7 linked regions of the Homo sapiens genome follow. The protein of the gene in region 6 purifies or fractionates together with the protein of the main gene of each other region. This does not show direct contact. Each region holds a gene or a part of one and is shown on either strand. Other genes may lie near its edges.

Region 1 (3,500 bases), on a different chromosome or scaffold from region 6:
TAATCTCAGCACTTCGGGAGGCCAAGATGGGTGGATCACCTGAGGTCAGGAGTTTGAGACCAGCCTGGCCAACATTGTGACGCCCCATCTCTACTGAAAATACAAAAATCAGCCAGGCATGGTGGCAGGTGCCTGTAATCCCAGCTACTCCGGAGGCTGAGGCAAGAGAATTGCTTCAACCCAGGAGGTGGAGGTTGCAGTGAGCCAAGATCGTGCCACTGCACTCCAGCCTGGGTGACAGAGCAAGACTCTGTCTCAAAAAAAAAAAAAAAAACTAAAAAGTCCTTTGACCTATATACAAATGTTAACTGGCTGTTTACACTGCTTCAAAATTATAAATGTGAAATTAGGATTTATTTCATTCTAAAGAATAAGAAAAGAGCAACTACATATTCACTATAAGCAAAGTAGATATGAACATAAAATCTTGCAAATTAGAGTGTACAATATAAACAACACAAAAAAAGATACTAAGTCAATGCACTTTAAAATATTTCTACCCCTCTACCCTGTTCACTAAAATATTTTAAATGTCTTTCCAATATTTATTCCTCTTTATCTTATGCCCATTTCATGGGGCCTAGTTATACTGAATTTATACAGTAATAAAGGTAAAAAGCTGTCTTTAATTAGTACATTTTCTGAACTGAGGGTTCCTCTCTTCAAGGGCAAAACATTTTAATATTTTTGGTTGGCAATATTTCTGAAATGGATTATACCCTTTGCTGAAACAGAAAAAAAGAAAGAAATTTTAACCTTTTGCAAATGACGTGGGCCTACAATGTATACTATTTAACTGTACATCTGCCAGGCACTGGCACACTAAGGGGCTCCTAATACTATGGTATAAGTCTCTCCTCCCGCAACACTAAATGACCAAGACCACTGGGCTTTCTGGCTTCCTGGGCTTACCTTGCGTGGTCTTCCTCTCACTGTCTGGGGTAGCAAGCCGTGACAATGATCCCAACAACCTCTATCTCCTGTTATTTCATACCTTTGTGTAGTCCCCTCCCATGTTATACTGGGTTGGTCTGTGTGATGATTTGTCACTTCTGAGATTAGGCACTGTGGCTTCGGGCTCTCTCTCTCTAACCAATTGCTTTGGGGGAAGCCATGCCATGAGTAGCCATATGGAGACGGGCTATGGCAAGAAACTGAAGCTTCCTGTCAACAGCCACAAGAGTGAGCTTGGAGCAGATCCTCCAGCCCCAGTCAAGTCTACAGAAACTGCAGCCCCAGCTGACAGCCTAACTGAAACCTCATGAGACCCTGAGCCAGTACCACCCAGCCAGGCTGCTTCCTGACCTTCAGGAACTATGTGAGATAATAACTATTTATTGTTTTCAGCTGCTAAGTTTTGGGGGTCATTTGTTACACAGCAATAGAGAACTAATATACTATTGTTGCATCCTTCTGTGGCTAGGAGACTGGACAGTTATATTTATTTAGGGCCACCTTAAGTCTTTTGTGAAATAAAGCAAGGAGAAATATATAAATTACCACTAAAATGTATCAGAACTTTAAAGAGTCCTTATAGTTAGGAGCTTGTCTTATCCTTAAACATGTAAAGTTCTATGTATGATAATCAGTGTTTTCTCCTCTCAAATATATTTAATGACAAAATTCCTTTCATTCTGTTTTTATGTTCTTAGTTGTCATACTAAAATCGATACGTATTAGTTTGCTCTTAAAAGGAAAAAATTATTTTTCTCAAATTGTATTTAACCTACACATAAGAATGTATGTATTTTCACATCTATGTATAGAGTATAGTATAGATAATATGGGTAGAATCATGTATAGTTGCATTTAGAAATTACCAAATACTGATTACTAATAAATTTTTTTTTTTTTTGAGACAGAGTCTTGCTCTGTCACACAGGCTGGAGTGCAGTGGCACAATCTCGGTTCATTGTAACCTCTGCCTCCTGGGTTCAAGCGATTCTCCTGCCTCAGCCTCCCAAGTAGCTGGAATTACAGGCATGCGCCACCAAGCCCAGCCAATTTTTGTACTTTTAGTAGAGACAGGGTTTTGCCATGTTGGCCAGGTTGGTCTCAAACTTCTGTCCTCAAGTGATCTACCCACCTCAGCCTCCCAAAGTGCTGGGATTACAGGCATGAACCACCATACCTGGCCTCTAATAAGAATTTAACAACAACAACAACAAAAAAAAATCCTTATAGTTAGGAAGCCTTTTAAATTTGTCATATTTGTAATAATTTAGGTTTCTTTCTTTTTCCCTTCTGTTAGTTTATAAAGGCAGGAATTTATGATTTTATATAAATTAATAGGTCAGCAGGTTTTCCATGAGGAGCAGGGGACTTTCCTATTGTGAGGTGGAAGGCTTTATGACAACCCTTGGCTGCTCAGAGGCCTTTATTCCCTTCTTCCTTCCTTGCTGCTGGTTGTCTTATCACCTCTATAAACTCTGGATGAGGAATATGCTACTGAAATTAGTAAAAGTGGGAGCTTCTTAGTCTATTTTAAAAGGCTCCTTACTTTTTTTTTTTTAATTTTTATTTATTTATTTATTTTTTTTTTTTTTTTGAGACAAAGTCCCGCTCTGTCGCCCAGGGTGGAGTGCAATGCTGCAATCTCAGGTCACTGCAACCTCTGCCTCCCGGGTTCAAGCGATTCTCCTGCCTCAGCCTCCTGAGTAGCTGAGATTACAGGCACCCGCCACCACACCCAACTAATTTTTGTATTTTTAGTAGAGACAGGGTTTCACCACGTTGATCAGGCTGGTCTCGAACTCCTGACCTTGTGATGTGCCCACCTCAGCCTCCCAAAGTGCTGGGATTACAAGCGTGAGCCACCATGCCTGTCCCCTTACATTGTTTTAAACAAGAAATATCTTATGGTATATTCCCAATCACCAAGAGCACTTAAAGAACATAATTTAACTGCTGGAGATTTAGAAAAGAAATATTTCCTTACCATAGCATATTCCCCTAGTGGGTCTGTTTTTGCAAAGTAATCATTCTCTAATTCTGTCCCAAAAGAATTCTCATATGGACTTTTACATTTCTGAATGATTTAATTCTACTGTCTAAGAAGTGACAAGAAAAAGTCTGTATTAAAGAATCAATACTTACCTAAAAATATCATTATAAGATAAATCTGAAGAAAAAAGGAAAATCTAACTTTGATTTTCACTGGATATGGCAATGTGAAACTGAATCGTCCGGTCTCATTGAATATTGGAATGGACTGAATCACTGAGACAGCTGAAAACAGAAACAAGAACTTGTTAGAAGCAAATGAAACAGTCACATTTAATGACAGGAACTTCCAGTCCTAGTACTCTAAAGTTTCAGTTCTGGGTGTGCTGGAAAGGCTTTCTCCTCCCTTTGTACAGAAAGCTCATGCCTCTCCTTTTTTTCCCCTACTTTTCTAAGAGATCAGCCTCCAACCTGTCAACAGAGAGACAGATGAGGAAGTCATGGTAGTGGGCTTCTTCTATTCTATAAAATGGAGAGGAAAATCCCTAGCTGACTTA
Region 2 (3,500 bases), on a different chromosome or scaffold from region 6:
TGGAAGGCCGAGGCGGGCGGATCACCTGAGGTCAGGAGTTCGAGACCAGCCTCAACATGGAGAAACCCTGTCTCTACTAAAAATACAAAATTAGTCAGGCGTGGTGGTGCATGCATGTAATCCCAGCTACTCGGGAGGCTGAGGCAGGAGAGTGGCTTGAACCTGGGAGGCGGAGATGGCGGTGAGCCGAGATCGTGCCATTGCACTCCAGCCTGGGCAACAAGAGCGAAACTCCGTCTCAAAAAAAAAAAAAAGAAATGCATCTGGTGTCTTCAAAGAATAGCAAGAAGGCATGAGCTGGGGCGGAGTGAGGAAGTGGGAGATGGGAGATGAGGAGGTAAGAGATGTAATGGCTCAGGTTGGAGTCAGATGATGTGGGTTATGGAGCCACTGTAAGGCCTTTGCATTTCACTCTGCAACAAATGGGAGTCACTGGAAGGTTCTGATGAGAGGACCGAAATGAACGGACGCACAATTTAAAAGGATCTCTCTGGCTGCTGTGTGGAGAACAGACAGTGGGGAGATAAGAGCGGACACAGGAGGAACAGTGACAAGGTTACTGCAGAGATCCAGACAGAGCTGGGGGGCAGCGCAGGTGGCAAGAGGTACTGGAATTCTGGGTATTTCTTCAATGGTGCCAGCAGGATTTCTTGACATCTTAGATGTGGGATGTGAGAGAAAGAAAAAGCATGGTTCCTGAGGTATTTAGTTGGAAAAACTGGAGGTGGAGAGGGCCGAGGGAGAAGACAGGAAGCTCAGATTTGCACGGAGTAAGCGTGAGGCACCCAGGAGGCAGCAAGTGGAGATGTCCAGCGGGCAGCAGAGTAAGTAGGTCTAAGTTCAGGGGAGAAGTGTAATCTGGAGATTATCCGTGGGAGTTGTCAGACAGAGATTATATTTAAAGTCATGCGATGTGATGAGATCACCAGGGAAGTGAAGGTAAATAAAGAGATCCAAGGACTGTGGTGTGAAGAGGTCAGAAAGGACTGAAGGCACAGCAAAGTGGGCTGGGGAGTGACTGGTGGGTGCAAAACCAGGAGAGAGTGGCATCCTGAAAGATGAGAGGTAAATCTATTGGTAGCCCGACTGGCCAAAAGGAAGACACCTTGGTAGCCGGTCACTTCCATTTCTGGATAGTGAAGCGGGAGGAGGTGGATTTAACAGCAATGATGGTGGTAGCAAGAGGAACAACACGTTAAACCTCCCCTCCTTGGGAAACCGTTTATTCCTGCAAAGCTGCTAGTGCAGACTGATGGTTCTGCACCAATGGAACACATCAAAATCACCTGGAGAGCTTCTTATAAAGACAAATACTATCCTCCTTCTAGAGGTTCTGATCCAGGAGGTCCAGCATAAGGCTGGGCGTGGGATTCAGCATGGCTCTGGGTGTGGACTTCATGCTGGACGGACACCAGGCTGTGGCTGTACATGAGGCCGTGAGCCATTTCCTTCCCTGCACCCTTCTTTACCCTCCTGTGCCTGCCCTCGGGCCTAGGTGATCTGTGATGTTCCCCGGTGAAGATCTGATATGGGTTTTTCTCAGAAAATTGAATACCAAGGAATCTCTCTTCCCTTTTAACTATAATTCTCACTATCACTATTTTTCCTTCATGCTTAACATAAATAATGAAAACAAAAATTAATATGTAGCTTTTATAGAATTCTAGTTCCTAATAACAAACTATCCCTAATTTGTTAAATATAAGGCAACCTTTAGGGCAAGCTGCCGCCATCACGGTCTCATTTTAGAATTGGTTACTTTATTATTTATTTATTTATTTTGAGACAGGGTCTCACTCTGTCACCCAGGCTGGAGTGCAGTGGTGCAATCATAGCTCACTGCAGCCTTGACGTCCTGGGCTCAGGTGATCCTCCCACCTCAGCCTCCCGAGCAGCTAGGACTACAGGCGTCTGCCACCATGTCCAGCTAGTTTCTGTTTTTTTAAATTTTTGTACTGGTTGTAGAGACAGGGTTTCACTCTATTGCCCAGGCTGGTCTCGAACTCCCGGGCTCAAGTGATCTGCCCACCCTGGCCTCCAAAATGCTGGGATTACAGGTGTGATTCCCTGCACCCAGCCAAAAATATGGTTACTCTATAAAATATAAGTATTATCATGTATAAGAACTGGATAGTCTGAAAAATGATTTATCCAATGCGCTTATTATGCGGAAGCTGAGGTCCAGAGGGGAAATAACTTGCCCAGGTTGCATGGCAGATGCTGGCAGCAGAAACAAGTCCGGGAGAACTCAAAGCAGGAGCAGCCTCCAGGGCACTGGCCAGCTTTCCACTCACCACTCTTTTCTAGCCATTTTTCTTGAAGTATGACACCAATTAATGTCTGCAGAGAAATGATATCTTGGAGGCCCCCCCACTTTTTTCCTTTAAATAAAAACTTGACCTTTACACTATGAAGTTCTATACTACAATAACCTTAAGGTTACTCTAAGTACAAGTGATCAAGAATGCTGTGGAGGCCTCACAAAAGATGTCTTCCTTTGTAGGCGAGGAAAAAGGAGAGAGAGGGAGAGGGGAACCCTAACATCTTAAGAATTTCCATTATATACAAGGAATTGGGCTAGATGCTGGCCTAAGCTTGCCACATCAGAGAATATTCTACCTCATTTCTCACGACAATAGTGTGATTCAGACATCCTATGCACATTCCGCAGACGGAAGAATCAGATTCTGGGATGTCATTCAAAGCCACCCCATCTTTCCAGCAAGGGAAGCAGCAGGAGTTCTTGACGCCAACTACTTATCTGCACACTCCAGTTAAACCCACCGAAATCCTGGCACTGGAAGCGCCCACTGCATGTTACCCATGATGGGGAGAACAATGGCTGCCAAAGATGTCTCATTCTAATCCCCAGAAGCTGTGAGAAGGTCTAATAAAAAATGCTGCTATCTTTAGTATCTATTTATTGAGCACCTACTACTGTGAATATGTTACCTCACATGGTGCAGGGACTTTGCTGATATGATTAAGTTAAGGATCTTGAGAGATGCAGGCATGATCCTGGAATATTTGGTTGGCCCAATGTCATCACAAGGCTCCCTATAAGAGATGGAAGGAGGCAGAAGAGGCAGAGCCAGAGAAACAGATGTGGGAACAAGCAGAGGTTGGAGTGATGCTGGGCTGTGAGCTGCAGCCCCTAGCAGCTGGAAAGGGCAGGGAAAGGGGCTCTGCCCTAGAGCCTCCAGAAGGAAGGCCCACTTGTTCTAGACTTCTGACCTCCAGAACTCTAAGATAATATATCTGTGTTGCTTTAAGCTACTCAAATATGTAGTAATTTGTTATAACAGCAATAGGAAATGAATACAACACTGTTTCCTCTACTTAAAAGGGATTTCAAGTTGTACTATAGTGGCATAAGAAATACCAACTGGATTTGATAATCTGTGTTCCTCTGCACCCAGAATTAAAAATCAAACAAACAAACATACAGACTAATCAGGAATGCCACATTAGCATTCTCACAAAAACAGCTGATCTCAAAT
Region 3 (3,500 bases), on a different chromosome or scaffold from region 6:
TGAAACCCCGTCTCTACTAAAAATACAAAAATTAGCTGGGCGTAGTGGCACATGCCTGTAATCCCAGCTGCACCTGTAGTCCTAGCTACTCGGGAGGCTGAAGCAGGGAAACTGGTTGAACCCAGGAGGTGGAGGTTGTAGTGAGCCAAGTTCGTGCCACTGCACTCCAGCCTGGGCTACAGAGCGAGACTCTGTCTCAAAAAATAAAATAAAATAAAAAGAGATAAATGTGGCTGGGAACAGTGGCTTGCACCTGTAGTCCCAGCACTTTGGGAAGCTGAGGCAGGAGGATTGCTTGAGGCCAGGTGTTCAAGACCAACCTGGCCAATATAGTGAGACCCCATCTCAATTTTAAATTTTTTTTAAAAAAAGGTAAATGACATGAATATACATTTCTCCAAAAACAAAAAAGTGTCCAACATTATTGGCCACCAGGGAAGTGCAAATCAAAGCCACAATGAGATACCACTGTACACCTTCTATATGGCTACAATAAAAAAGAAATGTTAGACAGGATGTGGAAGTGTCAAAACCCTCATACACTGCTGACAGGAATGCAAAATGGTGCAGCCATTTTGAAAAAGTCTGGCAGTTCCTCAAAAAATAAAACCAGGCCAGGTGTGGTGGCTCACACCTGTAATCCCAGCACTTTGGGAGGCCGAGGCAGGCAGATCACCTGAGGTCAGGAGTTCAAGAACAGGCTGGCCACCATGGTGAAAACCTGTCTCTACTAAAAGTACAAAATTAGCCAGGCATGGTGGCACACGCCTGTAATCCCAGCTACTCAGGAGGCTGAGGCGGGAGAATTGCTTGAAACAGGGAGGCAGAGATTGCAATAAGCCGAGATCACGCCACTGCACTCCAGCCTGGGTGAAGAGTAAAACTCCGTCTCAAAAAAAAAAAAAAAAAAAAAAAAAAAAAAAAAAAAAATATATATATATATATATATATATATATATATATGAAACCAGAGTTATCATATGAACCAGAAATTTCCATCCTAGGTACATATCCAATAGAATATCCAATGGAAATGAAAACATATCCACACAAAAAACCTATACACAAGTATTTATAGCAGCATTATTGCCAGAAATTGGGAAAAACCCAAATGCCTACCACTGATAGATAAAATATGGTACATTCATACAATGGAATATTATTCAGTAATAAAAAAAGAAATAAAGAGTACTGACACGTTACAATCTTGAGAACATCATGCTAAGTGAAAGAAGTCAGACACAAAAGAAAGCCTATTGCATGATTCTATTTATATGAAATGTGCAGAATAGGGAAACCCATAGAAACAGAAAGTAAATTAGTGGTTGCCAGGGTTTAGGGGTGGGGAGAATGGGGAGTGATGGTAATGGGTACACAGTTTCTTTCTGGGTGAGGAAAATGTTCTAAACAGTGGTGATGCCGGCACAACTCTTAAAAACCAGTGAATTGGCCGGGCGCGGCGGCTCACGCCTGTAATCCCAGCACTTTGGGAGGCCGGGCGAGGTGGATCACAAGGTCAGGGGTTCGAGACCAGCCTGATCAACATGGTGAAACTCCGTCTCTACTAAAAATACAAAAATTAGCTGGGTATGGTGGCAGGTGCCTGTAATCCCAGCTACTCAGGAGGCTGAGGCAGGAGAATTGCTTGAACCCGGGAGGTGGAGGTTGCAGTTGCAGTGAGCCGAGATCACGCCACCGCACTCCAGCCTGAGTGACAGAGACTCCGTCTCAAAAAAAAAAAAAAACACACACACACACGCACACACACAGTGAATTGTACACTTTAAAAGGGTAAAGTATACAGTGTGTGAATTATATATTTTTTTAATGAGGGAAAATGATGACCAAAAAAAAAAAAAAAAGATCTTGCATCAGGACTCCATCTCTTTCCCATATATTCAATGTGGCTGCCAGGTCCTACTTATTTCTGTGGTATCGCTCACATTTTTCCCCATTAATTCCCAATGACCTCAACCTAGGTTGAGATCTCTCACCTGAACTACTAAAAAAGCCTTCTAACAAGCATTTTTAAACTCATCTCTCATTTCTCCCTTTCTTTGTTTTACAATTCAAGAGTTATCTTCCCAAAAGTGTGATGATATCACCGAATTACTCAAAAACTACTTGAAAATATAAAGTTGAAATTTTATACGAAAAATTTAAGGTACTCCACAATCTGGCCCAATCCTGTTACAACCGTATCTGCAACATTTTTTCCTATATACCCTCTTCTCCAGCCACATTATTCCACAAAAATGCCTTGTACTTGTATGCCATTCTGTATTTCTTGCTGTTCTCTCCCAAATGAAATTATTTCACCTCTATTTTTGCCTATTTAAATCTAAACCAGCCTTGAATGTTATTTAAATGCTTATTCCTGCCTTGATTTTCCTGCAACAAAGTGAATCATTTCATTCTCTACATTTCATTCACATTCTGTAACGCTACTGTTAAAACAAGGCAAGACAGAAGAATAGTATAGGTTTGAAGGTCAGATAGGCCTGTGTTCAAATCCCAATCTTGACACTTATTTATCAGCCACATGGCCTTGAACAAATTACTTAACCTGAGCTTCAATTTTCTGACCTGTAAAATGGGAATAATAATACATCAGAGTGATCCTGAAGATCAAATAAAGTATAATGAGCACACAGGAATCCTCAGTATATTAGTTTCCTTTTCATATTTCAGTTTGCTTTATATTCATGTTCACATGTCTGTCTTCCCCACTAGACTAGACACTGGTTGAAAGCAACACTATATAAGGTCCCAAAAAAAACTGTTAAAGCGTACCACATAATAAAAAGTATATAGGCTATATAGATGCAAAACTGATCAACTCTTAACCTATTGTAGGTATTAAATATCTACTAATGCAACGACATAATTAAAAATTCAAAAGTTGTAATTAGTAACTTCCTCAATATTCCATTTGAAAATATTCTAGTTGGCTACGCAGAAATGGAGATTTAACTAGTAACCTTGATTCATTTCTTATGGTCAATTATTCTAATATTTTATGAAGAAATAAAAACAGAAAAATGGAAGAAAAACTTAAGTCACTGTTAAGGGGGAAAAAATCCATTTTAAGAAAAATGTGATTCTACAACTACATGGATAAATCTGGCATTATACTGAGTGGAGTAAGTCAGACATAAAAGAGTACATACTGTATGATTTTTTTTATATGAAATTCTGTAACAGGCAAAACTAATCTAGTGATAGAAATATGAGCATTTGTCTGGGGTAGCAAGTGGGGAGGTAGACTGACTGCAGGAGGGTATGGAAAGCCTTTTGGGAGAGAGGGAAATGTTCTAAATCTTGATTGGGGCATATACATTTGTCAAAAATCATCAAGCTGTACACTTAAAATCTGAGCATTTTATATGTAAATTATACCTCAATTTTTAAAAACTGTGAGCCATAAAGAGCCAATGTCTTCAAAAGTAGCAAAGAAATATCAAATATGTTAAATTATCCACCCATGCTATTATATAATA
Region 4 (3,004 bases), on a different chromosome or scaffold from region 6:
GCCTTTCATGTTTGTTTTCATCCAGATTTACCTGTATATAATGTTGAGCACAGGTTACCCAGTGTGTTTGCCCAGGCCCAACATACCCTGCGGTAGGTGAACGTAACCCTCCAATCCGAACAGTCCCTCCACTGGAGACGACCCCCTAAGTCTTCATAACAAGAACGCTGGCACTAAAATAGACCTCTTAGGCATACGGGGCAGCAACACGCTAATTCCGTAAGGAAGGAAGCTGGTTCTTTTTCCTCTTTTTTTTTTCCTCCAAAATCCACTTTTATCCAAAGGATAAGCTGCTCTGACCTTGACAGTTTTTAAAAGAAAAGTCTGTTGCTAATGGGAACCAGCCCAGCTGTGAAAGATCTAATGAGTGCCTGCCAGTGGCGTCATCTAGAAACAAATCAAGCAGCTTCTGAGAGAGCAGGGAGACCAGCTGTTCCGCCTCTCCTCTAAAAGGAAAGAAGAACAGAAATATGAAACATTGAGTCAAGAAACAGTACAAATGGCAGCAAAACATGTATTTTAACGACTCTGAGATCACAGCACATTGGAAAGGTAAATGACCCTCTTCCCTCTGATGAGTCCTGAAAGCTAGGACAGCAAAGCTTCCCTAACAGGACAGACGGGAAGTCCAGGACCCCACACAAGTTCTAGAAGGGTGTGGAACCAACTGACGTTGAAGTAGATGTAGATCTATTTCAAAGTATTTCTGACTAGGGTCTATGTTAATAAACAGGGCTGATAGGATTTATAGGTCAAGAGAAATGGAGTCTAAAAAGATGAAAACCAAACTACAGGTCGAGCATCCCAAATCCAAAAATCCAAAATCTGAAACGCTCCAAAATCCAAAACTTTTTGAGCACTAACATGACACTCAAAGGAAACGGACATTGGATCATTTCAGATTTCCAGTTTTGATTTTGGGATACTCAACTGGTATAATGCAAATATTTCAAAATCTGAGAAAAACCCAGATCCAAAACACTTCTGGTCCCAAGCACTTCAGATAAGAGATACTCAATCAGTATTATCACTGAAATGGGAAATTAGGGGGTTCTCTCATTTCCTACTTAATAGATATTCCCATGTTGGGAAGGGAGGGTTAGAATTTTGAATGTTACCTGATTGTAATTTGCTCTAAATGGTAAAAAGCTAATATTTGAGTAACAGTATTATTATTTGACCAAAGATTTGGTCAAATTTTAAGATAGAATTTGAAACATCCTGCATGTCTCTATAGATCTTGACATGCCTATAGGCCCAGCTATCCTTTAAGGTTCATTACCATACACATGTGTGAATCACTTCATAGTAAGATTTGAATTTCCAAAATCTTGCTGTGAATCTCTGACCCTAAAGACTTGAGCATATCATGGCCATATTACCATATGCCAGTTTATCATCCCAAACGTCTTTCTTCATCTGTAATTTGGGAACAATAATTACTTTATTGAAGAGGTATGAAAACTAATTGAGACTATATGTGTGTGTGTGTGTGTGTGTGTGTGTGTGTGTGTGTGTGTGTGTTTGAGATGGAGTTTTGCTCTTGTTGCCCAGGCTGGAGTCAATGGCACAAAGTCAGCTCACTGCAGCCTCCACCTCCTGGGTTCAAGCGATTCTCCTGCCTCAGCCTCCCAAGTAGCTGGGATTACAGGCATGCACCACCATGCCCGGCTAATTTTGTATTTTTAGTAGAGACAGGGTTTCTCCATGTTGGTCAGGCTGGTCTCAAACTCCCAACCTCAGGTGATCTGCCCACCTTGGCCTCCCAAAGTCCTGGGATTACAGGCATGAGCCACTGCACCCTGCCTAATTGAGACAATATTTATACAAGGGGAAATTGGTCTATTATAAGGCCTAGCCATAGTAAAGGTCTCAACATGTGCTCCCAGCTCTCCCTCTCCTCCTTGTCTTCTCTCTACCAGTGGTTCTCACACTTCGTAACACTCTGAGGCACACTGGGCATGAAATAAAAGCAGGAGAGGATGGGACAGCATATTCCAGAGATCTGTTTTTCTTCTTAAAAGCCACTCACTTGAAATTCTATCAAAGTTATATGCCTAAAAAATTCATTACCTCTGTTTTAATTATACAAGAGCCTTACAACTAAAATACTCTCCCAGTCATCTAAGAGACCACCACTTAACAGTATATTAGATGCAAACATTTCAGATTTTCCCCATGAGCCTGAAGTTTAAACATTCAAATTTGCAAAAGAGAAGTAAATTGGAAGAAAGACATTCACAGAAAACTATTTCATATCCATTAGTTATCATTTACACATCAAATACATATAGCATTAAGACCAAATATACAGAATTTCCACATTTATATACAGTAGTCAACATAGTGCACAATTCAAATCTATCTTACAATCAAGTGTACAAGTTTAAATATGGCTTTATAAACTACTAATAACTCTGCTAAAGTAACTCATAGATCCAGAAATAAACACTGAAATGCCATCTTCACATTGGGGTCATCATTCAGCAAGATGCTAATCATTGTGATTGCAAAACAGAGGGTGCAGGTAAGTGTTTCCAGGTGGTGTCCGCCCATTAGCCCCGAAATGTGGGTTCAAATTATGCCAACATTGGCCCTTCCTATCTCAGATACCTAAAAATAAGTCTGCACATCTTCCACACATTTGAAGACACAAGATTATAAACAAATAGAAAAAAAGACATGTAATCAGTGAGATGATGAATTATCAGGCATTATCAAAACATGTTTTTCAGATTGATGCTGAAATTCACAGACAATACATCCTGCATTTGCATTATCTGGGTATCACCTCACCCCTACTTTCTTTTCTTGTTTTGCTTACCTCAGTGTGTTGTTAAATCTTTCTGGAATTTTCAAGGCATTCTAGATCAAGTGGTCCCAAAAGCAGAATTAAAAACATCAGTCTTAAAGGTGACATCAAATTGTTCATCCTTCTCTTTCCCAACCAAAAATGCCTATTTTAAGTAAAAATAATTAAATACCTTGACCTAAAATCATGCGT
Region 5 (3,500 bases), on a different chromosome or scaffold from region 6:
GTATGTATCTTTCAGTCTGCCACAAACCATGTTACATCAAAGGAAAGAGAAACGGATACATGATAGAGATGAAAGATAATGTAAGCACAAAGAAAGTAGAGACGGGAAGAGAAGTTCATTGTGGAAAATATGAAAGCATGTGAAAATGCTATATTCTTCTATAATCAAAGTACTGTATATGAAAACTAAGACTGTTCATGACCAGAAGCACTTGCATTTCACTCCGTCTTAAAGGGAACAGAATGAGTTTTCAATCTTAGCAGTAACTTTTTACATATGTTCCAAAATTCAGTGATTTTTCATGGTGATGGAATCTTCACAGATCAGATTCACATATGCAATACAGATAATTTATATATTCATATATCCTAAATATATTTGCAGAGCTTAACTCAAAAGCAGAGTCCCCTTTTCATTTCTAATTTTATTTCTAATTAGAAAACAAACAAAACACACTCTACCTTCCACTCGGGGTCTTGCTTTCTTTTGTCCAAAGATGATTTCTCCCGCTCCTTGGCTTTTTTGTAAGCTTTCTTTTCTTCAGCCATTAGAAGTCGAGCGATTTCCTAAACAAAATACAGTCAATATCATTAACTGCAGAGGTGCAGATAGAAATATACTAGGATATTTCCAAAGAATATCAGCTAAACTCATTAACTTACTTCATCTTGAGCTACTTGAGCGGCTCTCATGTCCACCTGGGTAGCCTATGATATCGAAAATACAAAAACAAAGAATTTAATTGGAATCTATGTTGTGCATTTTCAGTATCTTGTACAAAATAAGCTGGTTTTTGAAAATAATTGTGACTCATGTTCCTGAGGTTGATAATCAGTTGGTATGCTTTCACCAGCCAGAGCAGGAGCTCTTTTTATCAAATCCTACAGCAGGGTTATGGAGAACAATCATGGAGATGGAGAAATGGAGTTATGGACTTTGCTGCTAATGCTTACTCACTAAGCAAAAGTGGATACTCTATTCCTATTGTCATGATTTTTCCACTCATAAAAAAAGGTTTCTCAATTGATAGAGGACTATTAATATAATTTCAAGATGGACTAGATTCACAAAAAAAATACCCATCAATATATCTAAACTTTTGCCTTAAAATTTGCTCACCAAAAGTTCTTCTTCTTGCAGTTTTCTGGCAATTTCAGCATCATACCATTCCTGATCCCTGTGGGCCATTCGTGATGGAGTAGATACAGCTTCTTTCATCACTCTTGGCTTCATTCCTTTAAAAAAAAAAAAAAACTCAATGTAATAAAACAACCGAGGATGTTTTCTGAAAAGTTAAGAAATTTAAGATAAAGGAGATTTTTCTTTAGTAGCTAACAATGACAATACTACCTCTACTCCAGAATACAGTGTGGGGTGCATTAAAAATATTTTTGCCCTAGGAATGGAAGTGGCAATGTAGATAATGCATACATTTAAACAAAGATATCTAAGCAAGCCTGCCTGGTAAAAAGTCCCCTCTCACATAGTTTCTGCAACAGCAGAAATTTATGTAAGAAGTTGCAAGTGAGGCCCTGGAAAAATACAAAGTGAAAAAAAAGTCATTGAAAACAAAAATAATTTAAAGAAAAGCAAATTACAGAGTCAGAGTTTAAAAGAGGCTAAGCTGTCAAGGCTGGAGGAGAGTAGAGGCTTCTTTCTATTTATCTCAGCCTGCATACTTACTACTTCCGAGGGAGCAGGAACAGCAGCACCTGGCAGTCATGTGATAATACCTGTGAGACAAGCAGTGGTCCTGCCATGGCTTTTCCTCTGAGAGTAAATAAACCCACTCGCTTTAGAACTTCCCCACAGCTTTGATCAGACTGATAGCACTGTGACATCTTAGGGAAAATATAATCAGAGCTATATTGAGAGCACAATGACCAGAGTTCTATTCCAATTTATTCCTATAAAGCAATTCTGGCTTTAAACTTTTACTTGACAGTGTGAGTGTATTATATTCAGAATTAATAAAAATTTTGAATACAGTGAACAAGATTACTTATCTGAAATAGTTCATTTCAGTAAATTAACTATTCAGAGGAGAAAGAAAATGTACTCCTGATTGTCTCTTTATGCCAGGGGTTGTCAATCAGGGCTATATATTCGAATCACATGAGGGTGCTTTGAACACGTATAAAAATATTTGCCCCAACCCCCACAGATTCTAAATTAAGTAGCCTGGGTGTGCCCTGTCCTTGAGTAAGTTTGTTTTAAATCTCCCCAGTTCATTCTTACTTGCAATTAATATTGGCATCACCTGTTTAGTGTATTATGTCCATTAAAATTACTGTAAATTAAAATGATTTTTGTCAAAATCCCTCACCACACTTGACTCACTTGCTGTTAATCTTTAAAAAAATAAAATACAAGTAAACACTGGGCAAATGATGAGAATGTAAGTATTTTGTGAAGCCCACCTTTGTACAACTTTCAACCTGGCTTCTGCGGCTTCAGAAGCCACAGACTCATACACATCTGTATTTCCTACAAAGACAGACTAGTAAACATGGCTTTCTTAGCTTCAGACCTAATAGAACCTGATTGCACAGATCACTTCAAATCAACTCTAGAGCCACGGAGTCTTATGCTGGGCTGGGCTTAATCTAGATTTCTAAGTGGTTTGGGACAGCAAAAACAAACAAACAAACAAACAAAAAAACAGTGGCATAGTCCCAAGAGTGGACCATCTGAAATAGAATATAAATCTCCCTGAGTTATTTAGCTTAGTCAGAACTAGGAAGGCAGATTTCAGAGAAAATGAAATTAGATAAGGAACTCAGTACTGGGCAATGTCAGTGGACAAGATAGTCTGCTATATAAACCATGTTCCAATCTATAGAAAAAATGATACTTCAATAAGCAGCCCAAAGCTTAATTAAGGATGACAGAACATGCCTACCTCCTTCACTTTTGCCATACAGTGAAATAATACAGTGGGATGTGCTCAAATTTCAAGAGACCAAATTTTCTCCACTATTATGCCTCCTAAAGTACACCACAGAATTAGCCAAGAAGATTTTTCACTTTCAGTTTTATTAAAGACACATTGTTTTAAATTCTACCAAAGACAATATTCCATTGAATAGTCTAATTGTTTTGACAGGGTGATAAGACTGTAACCTCTGGCAGTTAAAAAGAGAATGATGACTTAGTAAGAGTCAGAATCTGAGGTAATATCTCTCAGTTCCAAATATTTAGAGGGGAAATGGTTTATTTAAACCCTTGATGTATCACTGGAATCTGTAAATCTCATTAAGTAGAAAATCTCCACAGCCTGGAATACTAAATTTCTGCACTGTCAGGATGCCCATTCTCTGCAGTGTCCTCTGGACCCAAGGTGACAAAAATTTTTGTAAGGATATAGAAAAAGAACTCACAGTGCAGTGTAAGGCCGTCATTAAACAAAGATGTCCAAAAATTTTTTAAATGTAATTAACTGAAGGAAATTAACAGACTAGCTTCCCTCATCTCAGTATCCTAAACAGACTCTAGAAACT
Region 6 (3,500 bases):
GATGGTCTTTCCCTTCAGGGAACCTACAGTCTAATATTGAACTTAGAGAGAGCTGATTGAGAGTTGTCCTGCTCGCGTTTTCTGGTGCACTTCCAGTTCTAAGGTTTTTGTTTACTGACCATGTGAAAATGCTTGCTGAATTGTAAAATAGGATGCTTGAGTGGTTTTAGGTATGATGATTTTGTACTATTTGTGTGAAATATAGCCCTGTCATATCATATGGTTTTTCAGAAAAAGGAGTGATATTTGGGTCCCCACTGACGGAGGAAGGCATTGCCCAGATATACCAACTGATTGAGTATCTACACAAAAGTAAGACTACTTGAAATTTTATCATTCTTTGTTTAATGAAGAATTCTGTTTTCTGTTGAGAGCTAACTGCCTTGAGTTAGTAGGTGCCAATTAACCATCAACAAAGGAACTAACCAGTGTTAATTTTGGGTGGCATGTTTTTAAATATATTTCCTTTTAAACTTCATCTCATATATTCATTTGTTTTATACTCTCAAAGTGTATATAAATTAGACCGTGTCTATGAAGTCACATTTACCTCTTGCCTCAGAGAGACACTTCTGGAAAAATACATTGTCCCTAAAGAATTGTTGCATTTATTTAAGAGAGCATGGTACCTTTTTTCTCCAGAATTCTATGATTAAAACACACTCTTTACTTTTTTTTTTTTTTTGAGACAAGGTCTCGTTCTCTCACCCAGGCTGGGGTGCAGTGGTGTGATCTTGGCTCACTGCAGCCTTGACCTCCCGGGCTCAGGTGATTCTCCCACCTTGGCCTCCCTAGTAACTGGGATCACAAGCTTGCACCACCACACCCGGCTACTTTTTGTAGTTTTTTGTAGAGATGGGATTTTGCCATATTGCCTAGGCTTGTCTTGAACTACTGTGCTCAAGTGATTCATCCGCCTAGGCCTCCCAAAGTGCTGAGATTATAGGCGTGAGCCATTGAGCCTGGCCTAGGGACGAATAGTTTAGTTGGGATGACCCTAAAGCTTCTGGGAATCTCTTAGGAATTTGACACATTAGAGTTCTAATTCCTGGAGCAATGCAGAGACTCTGGATTCATTCTGGGCTGGGAAAACAGTTTACAAGAGCCACAAACATCCACAGATGTATGTAGCCCCTCCAAACGAAGTCTGGGATAAACAAGAAGAGGTCTTTAGGGAGATTTGGCTTTTTTAAAGTTTATTTTTCAAGCTATTCCTGACCATTGATTGGGTTAAATTCAGATTGTCTATCCATACCTCAGGAGGTTGAATGACTCCCAGGAGGACTACCTTTTAGTTTGGAAGATCTCCAAATGCTCAGGGACATTCAGATATGTCTCCTCAGGAGGTCAATAGGTTCTAAACTACCCTGGTGAAAAAAGGCAAAAACTTACTTGAAAGGCTTTGTGAAGGGTCTTTTAAGTGTAAAGTAGTCTTTAGACCATTTATTTTAATAATAATCTTTCTGCTTCCTTTTTGCCTGTCCTCTGCTTTGTTTTATGCTAAACAGACTTGCGAGTAGAGGGTTTGTTTAGAGTACCGGGTAATAGTGTCCGACAGCAGATTTTAAGGGATGCTCTCAATAATGGAACTGACATTGACTTGGAATCAGGGGAATTTCACTCAAATGATGTTGCCACTTTGCTGAAGATGTTTCTAGGAGAGTTGCCGGAGCCTCTGCTGACACATAAACACTTCAATGCACACCTCAAAATCGCTGGTGAGTATAGGAAGTAAGAAGGAGATGTAAATACATTTCTTTCAATTTAGTAAAGTTCCTAGGAAATTTCTGTTGCTTGTGACCCACAGAAATACTTCTATTAATATTGGTTAAGATTTCGTGATGTTGCTGGACTTCTCTGGGTACTCATAGGTATTGGCTAGTTAAGTTTAATTTTAATTGAATGGCTTTCTTGATAAATAAGCTTTGTATTGAGATAAGGAGCTGGTAGTAAGATGTCGTCTGAGTTTTATTTATTTTTGAATCTCTGATAGATCCTCGAGTAGTGTGTAGAACATTTTAGTTGGAGACATGATCTCACTCTGTCACTTAGGCTGGAGTGCAGTGGTGCAACCTTGGCTCACTGCAGCCTTGCTCTCCCGGGCTCAGGTGAGCCTCCCACCTCAGCCTCCCAAGTAGCTGGGACTATAGGTGTGCGGCACCACGCCTGGCAAATTTTTTTGTAATTTTTGTAGACATGGGGTTTCGCCGTGTTGCCCAGACTCAAACTCCTGGGCCAAAGCCATCTGCCCACCTTGGCCTCCTGAAGTGCTGGGATTATAGGCATGAGCCACTGTGCCCAACGTGTTTTAGTTGCTTAATAAATGTATGCTTTTCATTGGATTGATTCATATATTTCAGATGTTTATAGGTTCGGTATTTTTGCCTTGGTTTGGGGTTTTTGCTCAGTATTTCTATGCCTCGGTTGAGGGCATCTCTACTCTTGGAAATTTTATTTGTTTGTTTGTTTGTTTTGAGACTGAGTCTCGCTCTGTCACTAGGCTGGAGCGCAATGGTGCAATCTCGGCTCACTGCAACCTCCGCCTCCCGGGTTCAAGTGATTCTCCTGCCTCAGCCTCCCGAGTAGCTGGGACTACAGGCACGCGCTACCACGCCTAGCTAATTTTTGTATTTTTAGTAGAGACGGGATTTCACCATGTTGGCCAGGCTGGTCTCGAACTTCTGATCTTGTGATCGGCCTACCTTGGCCTCCCAAAGTGCTGGGATTACAGATGTGAGCCACTGTGCCCAGCCAAGGAAATTTATTTTTTTTAAAAATTATTATTTGTTTTCTGAATAGAAACACATAGTTCAAAATTCAGATGATTCAAATAATATACAGTAAAAACCTTCTCTCCTACACTTGTTCCCCAACACCCAGTTCACCCAGTCCCCAACACCAGTAACACTGGTTAGTGTTACTGATTTAAAAAAAAAAAAATTTTTTTTTTTTTTTTTTAAAAGAAAGCCTGTTCCCCAGGCTGGTCTCAAACTCCTGGCTTCAAGTGATCCTCCCTCCTCAGTCTCCCAAAGTGCTAGGATTGCAGGCATGAGCCGCAGCCCCCAGACCAGTGTTACTGATTTCTAAAGTATCCTTCCAGAGATATTTTGTGTACTTCCAAACAAATACATATATTCCTTTTCTCTGATTTTTATGTAATAGGTTACACACATGGTTCTGTGGTTTGCTTTTTTCACTTACTGTATCTTGGAGAGTGTTCCATTTTCAGCTCATAAATAGTTTCTTCATACTGCTTTATACCCATGTGGTAGGGAATTCATTCTTAAATTGCACGTCTGTTATGCTGCTATGGGCTCTAAGTGTTCACAGCATCAATATCCATTACTGCAGTTGCTTAGTTTCCTGCCCCTGAGTATTTTTCCTGTTTCTTCTAATTATATGGAAAAGAAATAGAAGATTTTTTCCTTTTGAATAATTTTTACTACTTAAAGAAACAAGTGTTGAATTTTAAAAATCTAATACGATTAGTTTTTTTTTTT
Region 7 (3,500 bases), on a different chromosome or scaffold from region 6:
CGAACTCCTGACCTCAAGTGTTCTGCCCACCTCGGCCTCCCAAAGTGCTAGGATTACAGACGTGAGCCACCATGCCCGGCTTCTCTGAGCCTTTTAGTGTATGTGTCTTTCAGCTTCTCTGAGCCTTTTAGTGTATGTCCTTATCTGTTGAAAGGGAATCAATGAGATATGACCTATGTGCCTCACAAAACTATTGTGAGAATTAAATGATATAAAATAGAAGAAAATGCTTTGTAAACCATAAGGACCTATACGGACCCCCAAAAAGCATTATTTTAGTTAAGAAAAATGGATATTTTTACTGTTACTTGGAATGGTTTATATTAGAAATAATATTAGTCCCTGTACTCCACACCCCTTCCCCTACATATCCCGTGCACACACAGGCACACATGCACAAATGCATGAAGTGGGAGGAGGATTCAATGAACTTTGTTCACCTTAGAGATACACCCACTGCTTGCATATAACTTAATGTAATTTAACTGAACTTAACACTAGTTCATACTGTTTCAAGATAACAACACATTACCATTAATTGGGAACAGTTCTAACACTCCCCCAACTTCCTCTCCAACGCCTAAAAGCTTCAGAATGGTTATGTGGCGCAGACCTGAGAGAAAAAAGAAAACCATAGGATTAGAGGAAAGGATTAGAAGTTATCTTTTACTTCAAAGCCCTGATATCTGACAATTAAAAATCTCTTAAATTTAAAAAGAATATAGAGCATAACCCGATTGAGAAGAATAATCCATTTTAAATTTTTACCATAAGGAAGAAAATACTTTCAAAACCTCAAAGAAGATGAACTGTGATTCTCATTCTACTAAATGACAAAAAAGAAAAGAAAAGATGAAGCCATGCTGGGCGCGGCGGCTCATGCCTGTAATCCCAGCACTTTGGGAGGCCGAGGTGGGCAGATCACGAGGTCAGGAGATAGAGACCACCCTGGCTAACATGGTGAAACCCCGTCTCTACTAACAATAAAAAAAATCAGCTGGGTGTGGTGGCACGTGCCTGTAGTCCCAGCTACTCGGGAGGGTGAGACAGGAGAATCACTTGAACCCGGGAGGCGGAGGTTGCAGTGAGCCGAGATCGCGCCACTGCACTCCAGCTTGGGTGACAGAGACTCGGTCTCAAAAAAAAGAAAAGATGAAGCAATTCATTGGAACATTAAAATATCTGAGCTGATCTAAGCTAGTTAGTGTTCTGAATTTATAACAGCTTTTAGGATAACTTAACTTTCAGAGAAAAGACTACAGACTCCATCAATTGTGATGGTTAAAGAAATTGAAATTGTTCTGCTTCCTCACACAAAACTGTAGTGGCTTAAAGGATATGTTTTTATCACTAATTTAGAGGATTAAAAGGGAAGACATTTAAGCAAGCACAGCTTGCCTTCATATCCTCTGCTAAAGTTTCAGGACAGGAGGGAAGGTCATGCCTTGGTAGCTTGTTGGAATTCTTTTGAAGATGAAGTGGATATGAAGAGATTCCAGAGAAAGAAAATAGGAGGACAAAGGGGCTGTCAAGCCATCATATCAAGCTTTCATAGTTTTAAATAAAGTCCCAACCTAGTCAGGATAATAACTTGGAACTAATAATAAGGTTGTTGGTGCTGTTTATTGTCCAGGAGAGAAAAGTGAACACTGCCATGGGAGGGTACTTCTAAGGAGAAGCTAAAATCTAGGCAAAATGCTATTCAAAAAAATTTTTTTTTCACCTTTACTCTTTTCCCAGAGAAGTGAACTATTCTGTTCTACATATTGGTTAGTCATGTTTTCAAAAGGGAAGATCATCAATTTAATTATTCATTAATTAATAAATGTGAACATGACTTGTTCGCATTTTGGGTATAGTACAAAAGAGTTTGCTTTCACAATGTGACATAGGATCTGTGTGCAGAGATTTAAAGATAAAGTACCACCAAATAGCTGCTACAAAAGCATCTTTGGAAAATTTAAAAACTGTGGCTTTATTTATATTTTTCTTGTAAAGGTTCTTAACTGCTGTAAGAATTTCTATCTTAACTGGCCACATTGGTGGCTATAAATAATTTAAAGTGTGCTTAAGAATACTAGCACAATCAAATTTATATGTTAATATAAAGTCTTAAATTATTAACCTTGATAATAGGAGTACAAATAAAAATTTCTGAATTTTCTATTGTTCTTACTATTATGAGTTTGGTTTTGGCCTTCCTTTGAGTTATTTCATATCTTAAAATTAAAATGTACTTATAATTTACACATACTAGGTCATAACAAGGACCTTGGCTCTGTTAATGCTTTACAAAACTTACCCTCCTCCCTTTTAAAAAACAAATCAAGCACAGTTTTGTAACTAGTAGATGATTCTTCCTCCTAATAGAGGCATCAAAATAATGGTGATTCATCTATGTTCTAATGGAGAATTTTTTAATTTGTTGCCCTTAGCTACTTCCCCCTGCCCCTGCCCCTGCCCAGTGAATCTCTCAAAATTCTTCTTCTGCAGAGGTATATCTCATATGAGATTTCACTCATGACTTCTACTTTTGAAATTGTAGTCATCTCCTTGATTTATCATTGAACTTAGTAGTAAGTTCTATATACTATTCATTTTACTGCCTATATATCCATATCCAAAATGACATTAGCTCTCTCAGGACACTAGAATAAAAATGTTTGGTAAATAAAGCATATATTCGTTTTCAAAATTCTGAGCGATTCACTACAAAAAACAGTAAACTATGTTTTTCTTTGGCCTGCTTGTCTTTAAAATAAGGTTTTATTTAAGAGATCTTGCTACTTTCTTAGTGCTCAGTTATAGATAAAAATCCTTTTTTAAAAAAAATTCTTTCACTAAGTCTTCTGAGTTTTGAAGATAAAAATCATTTTTAAGAGAAGGGCAATATAGTCTGCTTCAATTAATATATTATTCCCAGAGCCATTCCTATTTTAAAAAAGACATTTAATCTATGGAGTATCCAGTGATGGTATGTAAGTAGATATTCGAGTATTACCTAAGTGAATGGTAATACCTAAGTGAGACAATTTAAAAAAAAACTGAAGATAAATGATACAGATCATTAAAAGTAAATCAGAAGATATTTTCAAACACATGAATGAAGAAGAACTAGAGAGGAGAGAATATTGAGGGAAAAAAAAATCCACAGTTGACTAAAGCTCCAGTCTAAAAGCAACTTTATACTCAATATAGTAGAGTATGTGTCTGGAAACCTGAACAGTCTGAACTAGGAATCATTTTGAATGATCTAAGGTTCTATGTTCCATTTTAGAATTGACCAGGAGGAGAGTGGTATGGGAAAGCAGTAATGAGGTGGCTTCCCACTCACCAAAATTGCACGCCTGACCACTGAGGGCAGAGAGCTGCTGTGAATAGGCCCAGTCTTCATCGTTAGGAGCAGAGATCACCAGCAACCTCCTCCTCCACCGGAACCTGGAAAAAAAAAGCAGGACACCATTACTGCTTACTGCTTCAAACAATAAAAACCAATGTAG

The links.
Region 1: the proteins of ARHGAP19 (region 6) and HACD3 purify together in Homo sapiens (affinity purification with mass spectrometry; one large-scale study listed by BioGRID and IntAct). This does not show direct contact.
Region 2: the proteins of ARHGAP19 (region 6) and SFXN1 purify together in Homo sapiens (affinity purification with mass spectrometry; one large-scale study listed by BioGRID and IntAct). This does not show direct contact.
Region 3: the proteins of ARHGAP19 (region 6) and NSRP1 purify together in Homo sapiens (affinity purification with mass spectrometry, with the first as the bait; one large-scale study listed by BioGRID). This does not show direct contact.
Region 4: the proteins of ARHGAP19 (region 6) and FAXC purify together in Homo sapiens (co-immunoprecipitation; one large-scale study listed by IntAct). This does not show direct contact.
Region 5: the proteins of ARHGAP19 (region 6) and CCDC50 purify together in Homo sapiens (affinity purification with mass spectrometry; one large-scale study listed by BioGRID and IntAct). This does not show direct contact.
Region 7: the proteins of ARHGAP19 (region 6) and CCDC80 purify together in Homo sapiens (co-immunoprecipitation; one large-scale study listed by IntAct). This does not show direct contact.

Annotation. Positions count from the first base shown.
Region 1 is NC_000015.10:65,571,963-65,575,462, reverse strand, and holds part of HACD3 (very-long-chain (3R)-3-hydroxyacyl-CoA dehydratase 3), read right to left. Parts: intron 3,229-3,500; coding exon 3,097-3,228; intron 1-3,096. UniProt on the Homo sapiens protein: Catalyzes the third of the four reactions of the long-chain fatty acids elongation cycle. This endoplasmic reticulum-bound enzymatic process, allows the addition of two carbons to the chain of long- and very long-chain fatty acids/VLCFAs per cycle.
Region 2 is NC_000005.10:175,485,060-175,488,559, reverse strand, and holds part of SFXN1 (sideroflexin-1), read right to left. Parts: intron 1-3,500. UniProt on the Homo sapiens protein: Amino acid transporter importing serine, an essential substrate of the mitochondrial branch of the one-carbon pathway, into mitochondria.
Region 3 is NC_000017.11:30,119,816-30,123,315, reverse strand, and holds part of NSRP1 (nuclear speckle splicing regulatory protein 1), read right to left. Parts: intron 1-3,500. UniProt on the Homo sapiens protein: RNA-binding protein that mediates pre-mRNA alternative splicing regulation.
Region 4 is NC_000006.12:99,270,668-99,273,671, forward strand, and holds the end of FAXC (failed axon connections homolog), read right to left. Parts: 3' UTR 501-3,004; downstream 1-500. UniProt on the Homo sapiens protein: May play a role in axonal development.
Region 5 is NC_000003.12:191,377,894-191,381,393, reverse strand, and holds part of CCDC50 (coiled-coil domain-containing protein 50 long isoform), read right to left. Parts: intron 1,734-3,500; coding exon of another isoform or gene 1,720-1,733; exon of another isoform or gene 1,684-1,719; intron 1,236-1,683; coding exon 1,120-1,235; intron 708-1,119; coding exon 663-707; intron 567-662; coding exon 462-566; intron 1-461.
Region 6 is NC_000010.11:97,261,638-97,265,137, reverse strand, and holds part of ARHGAP19 (rho GTPase-activating protein 19), read left to right. Parts: intron 1-231; coding exon 232-312; intron 313-1,508; coding exon 1,509-1,718; intron 1,719-3,500. UniProt on the Homo sapiens protein: GTPase activator for the Rho-type GTPases by converting them to an inactive GDP-bound state.
Region 7 is NC_000003.12:112,606,644-112,610,143, forward strand, and holds part of CCDC80 (coiled-coil domain-containing protein 80 precursor), read right to left. Parts: intron 3,439-3,500; coding exon 3,335-3,438; intron 614-3,334; coding exon 533-613; intron 1-532. UniProt on the Homo sapiens protein: Promotes cell adhesion and matrix assembly.